2 separate regions of the Homo sapiens genome follow, and region 2 is linked to region 1. Evidence: fine-mapped expression QTL. A gene starts in region 1. The other region holds a variant in brackets. All regions are shown on one strand. Distances are from middle to middle.

Region 1 (2,911 bases):
TTACAATCCTCTTGCCAGACAGAAAAGTTCTCCAAGTCCCCACTCTACCCAGGAAGTCTAGCTGGCTTCACATCTCAATGTTACTCCCTAATTTCTTACTCTTTTTAAAACAAAAACATTTTTCCCTCATGTTATAAAGGTACTGCAAATTCAATATGTCCTTATTTTTAAAAAAATTAAATGCAAAAAATAAAAATAAAAATTTTGAATACCTAAAGTCTACCTAGAGACATTTTAATACATTGACTTTTTAATACATTTAATACATTTTAATACATTATCTTTTTTCTTTGTATAATCTCTTGTAATTCATAACTTTGAATATACTGAATATACCTCTATACTTCATGTTTTTATTTCAAATTACCAGTATACTATTACATACTTCACACTTCATTTTTGTTGGCTGAAAATATTCTTCTCAGTGGATGAGCTATAAATCATTGTTTATTTAGGTTGTTTTAAATGTTTCTATTATAAACAATGTCATTAATAGCTTCATGTTTATATAATTTTATTTTTTAGGATAAATTTCCATAAGTGGAAATATACTGGCAAAAGAGAAGTGTTTTTTTGTTTTTTTTTTTTTGGAGACGGAGTCTCGCTCTGTCACTGGGCTGGAGTGCAGTGGCACGGTCTTGGCTCAATTCAAGCTCCGACTCTCTGGTTCAACTAATTCTCCTGCCTCAGCCTCCTGAGTAGCTGGGATTACAGGCATGCGCCACTCTGCCCAGCTAAGTTTTGTATTTTAGTAGCGACAGGGTTTCACCATGTTGGCCAGGATGGTCTTGATCTCCTGATCTCGTGATCCGCCTGCCTCAGCCTCCCAAAGTGCTGGGATTACAGGCGTGAGCCACAGCGCCCGGTCAGGAGAAGCTATTTTTAAAGACTTTGACACATATAAAGCAATATTTAAAATCAAAGAAAGTGTAATTTGTTTAACAATTTTTTTTTTACTTGAAGCGGTCTTTTATTTTATATTATGTCTTTTGCTGACTTTTACAAGCAAAGGATGAAGTCACTTCATTCTGTTTTGCTAGGGAGAGACTGTGTCATGCTTATTGGAAGACATAAGGGCTCATAATTAGATTTTGCTGGTTCCCTAGAGACAGTCCCGGGAACACACTTGCATAACCTTTGGTAATTGGAAATATATCTCATATTGGCCACGTGCACAATAATTCAGTGTGAATATGGCCAATAAACATGCCTTGTTTACAGGTCATTAGTTTGGACCTCTCTTCTCCTCAAATGCTAAGAAAGATCTGGTGAATTAAAATGCTTCCAGTCCATTTGCCTTGGCCTGTAGTGAAAGTCCTAATGAACAATGAAGGAGGTACCGGGCCTTAGGGACTCAGGGATGCGCTCAGGAGTTAAGGGCAAATTTTCCTAGGTTCTTTCCTAGGCAAGTAGATCCCGGGAGCGGTGGAGGGGCGGGACTCCACGTCTCCTAGGAACCGCTGCGCGCTCACTGATTGGCTGATCGCTGCTCAGCCGCCATTTTCAAATCCCCGGATGACGGCGGTGGCGGCTGCAGTCCGCTGACAGGCGCTTTCTGCCTGGCAGAGGCTGGCGGGCATCGTGCCCGTCCCTGCCGGTCTCCCGGGCACCCGGCCACCGCCCCACCCCCTCCTCCGTGCCATGGAGCCCGAGCTGGCGGCTCAGAAGCAGCCTCGACCGCGGAGGCGAAGCCGCCGGGCCTCTGGGCTCAGCACGGAGGGAGCGACGGGGCCTTCGGCCGACACCTCCGGGTCGGAGCTGGACGGGAGGTGAGTGTGGGGGAGGGGAGGGCCGAACGGGAGGTGAGTGTAGGGGAGCGGAGGGCCGAACGGGAGGTGAGTGTTGGAGAGGCAAGGGCCGGGGGGAGGGGAGGGCTGGCCGGGAGTTGGATGTGGGGGGCGGCGAGTGGGGGTGTTGGTGAGGGCCAGGGGGAGGCGAGGGCCGCTGGGAGGTGAGTGGGGGGTGGGGGAGGTGACCGCGGGGTTGGGGGGGGGGACGGGGGCCGCTGGAAGTGAGGGTGGCACAGGCTGGAGTGACAGTGTGCCTGGCCTTGGACCGAGGTCGGTCCTGAGACCCCAAACTGCGATTTTCCCTGCCTGTGGCAAAGGGGCGGGTTTATTGAGTCTCCTCGCCTCCTGACTGTTTCTCAGGGGAGACTTAGGAAAAACCACAATGGTTTTGTTCTGCACACCCAACTGGCTGTAGGCTGGCGTTCCCAAATGCCTTTGCTCAGACCGAAACTGTCATGGTGAGCACCACGAGAATGGGCTTCCATGTCCTGAGAAAGAAAAGACTAAGGGATAAGTTGACTTCGGGATATGTTATGAGATGCCTATTAGAGAGTTCATCACAACCATTTTCGTGTTTTTTCTTTTTACTTTTTGTGGAAGTATACATTGAAATGAGAGTGTATGACTCGTGTTTGGCTCAGTGAAATTTCACAAAGCGAAGCTCAGGGGATAGCTAGTGAATTAGGAGGAAGGGAACCAAGTGAGAACAGTATCCAGGAGGCCAAATGAAGAAAGAATTTCAAGAAGAGGACGTGGCGAGCTATGTCAGATGTTATTGATAGGTCAAATAAAATGAGGATTAAGTAAAATAAGATGAGGATTAAGCTAGATGAGGAATGAAAATTAAATTTGGTAATGAGAAGAGAGTATTGATCTTAGATGGTTTCCAAGAATGGTTACAATATCGAACTTAGAGTGTTTTGCAACAGGTTGAGAAGAGAATGTGCGATTTGTTCAGAAAATAATGTGAGTGCCAACACTAGGAATATGGAAATGGAAAAATACTCTTGTTACTATTTAAGATTTATAATCTAGTGGGGAAGAAAGATAAGTAGGTTAATAATTATTATAATATGTGATAAAAGTTATTATAGTGATATACACAGAATGCCGTAGATTAA
Region 2 (2,911 bases), 150 kb after region 1:
AGGGCCCGGCTGGTGCCCTTCCACGGTGGTGCTTCACCACCTTGCAATTGCTGGTTTACATCCCTGATCACCCAGACTAAACGTGAAGGGCCAGGACTGTGCTGAAAGTCCTGAAACCCAGAGATGAGAGCTCAGCTCAGACCGCACGTGATGCCTCGGTGTGGACATGTGCCCAGCTGAGCGTGCAAGCCCCTAATGGCCGCTCAGCAATGCTTGTGTTTTCTCCCTTGAAACTCTGGAGCAACTGCAGCCAAACATCCTCTGCTCACTCTGTTTGTATCTCTGTCCTCTAAATCAGCCCTCTGACTTCCTCCCCGCCTGCGATGAGACTGTGAAGGAATAACAACATCCGGAGGAGATTGTGCCCCAACTTGGCTGTCGAAGGGGCCTCATCAGCCACCTTCATGGCCCAGACGGTCAAAGGCTGACCCCACAGAGTAAGGCTGGCCCTAGGAAGAGTGGGTGCTGGGCAAGGTCCACCGTGTGCCGCAAGATCCCCCATTTAATGCAAACAACATCTCAATGAAAGATAGCATCAAAGACGGCAGTCTGAAGCCCAGGGAAGGGCGTGGACTTTGAAGTTGGGCAGGTTTGAGTTTAAGTGTTGTTTTGCCACTTCTGCTGTCTGTACCATCTTGGCAATCTGTAAAATGCATATAACACCTCGTGTGTTAGGGTGGGTCCTTGCTGCAATAACAAACAACCCCAGATCTCAGTAACTGCGTGCAATGAAACACCTGCTTCTCCCTCACACGAAGCCGAATGTGATGGTTTCTAGTTACATGGTTCTCTTGGGTGGGCTTCTCCCAGGCCGCAGCTCCACTGAGCTCCATAGTCCCCCGCTGGATCTCCTGCCCTAAAGTGGTCAACAGATGAAGAGAGACGGTGTGAGTATTGGGCAGGAGGTTTCTGGGGCAGCCTGGAGGTGGTGTCCTCCAGCATCACTCCCAGGGGCCCCGGCTGCAAGCAGGACATGCTGAAGCTGCAGTGTTCTGGGAAAGACATAGCCCCGCTTCTGCCACACCTGCCTGGCAGAATTGTCATGTTTTAGGGGACGGCTCGTAAAATGGCTTAACAGGCTCTTGGCCCAGGGACTGCTAGAATAGTGAGTTTCCTTCTTCTCTTCGCCTTTGGTGATGTTGGGGCTGGAAGATTTCTAGAATGAGCTGTGTCTGTAAAGAAGCCTCAAGTCTTTTTTTTTAAGCACCCGCGGATGAGGCTTTTTGAGGCACTAGCCGGGCATCAGAGGCCCAGGGAAGTTCAAG[G/A]GTTCACCCTGATTGGCCTGAACATCTGGGAAGTTCTGGGCTGAGCACGATGACAAATGTGCCTCCCACCCCCACCATCCACACTCATCTACCCACACACACGGGTTCTGTCCTGCCCCGAAGGAAGATGGTTTCAGGATGACTGGATTTCTGAATTTCCTCCGTGCAGATTAAGGAGGCTTAAGAAGCCCGCCTGTTGGGAGGAAGCCTCCGACCGGAGCTGCTCTGGCTGGGAAGGGGTGGCTCAGGGTGGTGCCTGCTGTTCAGCCAGGCTCCCCGAGGCAGGTGGGATGAGACACCTGGGTGGGGCGGGCAGAAGCTCAGAGTCTGCACGGTGCCAGGGAGGATGATGAGGGCGAGGATGGATGAGCCCACAGGGGTGCATACTCCACCTCCCGAAAACACAAGGAGCTCAGCGGCTGCACACACAGGCAGCACAGAAAAGAACAATGGGGCAACTCGAGGGCGTTCTGAGGGTACCTCTTGCCTACATCACCTGGTTTTAGTCATCTCCCACGTGCCTGCCTTCAGGCTGATGGACTTCTGTGAGATCCCTGGGTTGCTGGCTTTGAAAGCCACTGGGTACCGACCACCCACATCTTGGCAGGGGAGCTCCCATTGCTAACATTGCTTCATAAAGTGCCACTGGAGAACAGCTGTTGAGTGGTGACCAGCCCCCAAGGAGTCAACCGCCTTTCCCACCCCCAACTCACCAGAGTCCCATGAGGACACCCCACACTCAAACCCAATCTGGACAAAACTGTCAAGGACCCTAACCCAGGCGTGCCCCCCACCTTCTCATCCAGCTCCCTTTGACTCACTTGGGTGGTCGCAGCCGCCGGCTGTGATTTCTGGCCCATGCCTAGTTATTTTAAAGGCCAAATTTTCACAGCCATGCAACAGGCCCTTATCTCCAGGCCTTCAGATGCTCCCATGTGGCTTGTTTGATTCTCCTTCATATCAGCCCTCTCTCAAGACTCAAATTTCATTTCAAACCAAATTTCTCTTTTCTCCATTCTGTTGACTGGGCATCACCATGGCAACCCCCACCCCCATTGCAAACATCCTCTGAGGAACGGGCCCACATGCAGGGGCTTGAACCTGTCATCGCTGTGAGTCAAGGTGAGATGAGCTCACTTCCCTTGATCAGCCATGAGTACTGAGTGCAGCTTCAATTTGTGTCTTTGTCACTAGGACAACTCTGTGACTAGTGTGCTTCGGTTAGGGCAAAAAGTCCTTCTCCAGGAGAAAGAAGTAAGTAAGTTACCTGCCTTTACAGACAGTTGGTCCAATGGATAAAACAGGGGCTGCCAGAGAACCCTACAGAACAAAAAACCTATCATGCAAGATTATTACATATCTATCTTTTTTTCTCAGAAAAAGGCTGGGTGCTGTGGCTCACACCATAATCCCAGCACTTTGGGAGGCCGAGATGGGTGGATCACCTGAGGTCAGGAGTTCGAGACCAGCCTGGCCAACGTGGTGAAACCCTGTCTCCACTAAAAATGCAAAAATTAGCTGGGTATGATGGCATGTGCCTGTAATCCCAGCTACTCAGGAGGCTGAAGCAGAATTGTTTGAACCAGGGAGACGGAGGTTGCAGTGGGCCTAGAATGCGCCACTCTACTCCAGCCTGGGTGACACAG

Evidence for each region. PIP is the estimated chance that this variant, and not a neighbour inherited with it, causes the effect.
Region 2: its variant is fine-mapped to the expression of NET1 in whole blood (TOPMed, PIP 0.91).

Annotation. Positions count from the first base shown.
Region 1 is chr10:5,411,052-5,413,962 of GRCh38, forward strand. It overlaps NET1 (neuroepithelial cell transforming 1), which reads left to right and starts at 1,506. Exons shown (of 12, transcript NM_001047160.3): 1 at 1,506-1,769. The coding sequence starts at 1,642. RefSeq lists a silencer at 1,418-1,847.
Region 2 is chr10:5,564,450-5,567,360 of GRCh38, forward strand. It overlaps LOC105376381 (a long non-coding RNA gene), which reads right to left and starts at 2,432. Exons shown (of 2, transcript XR_001747274.2): 1 at 2,087-2,432; 2 at 1-856. The variant G/A (reference allele first, on the strand shown) is at 1,266.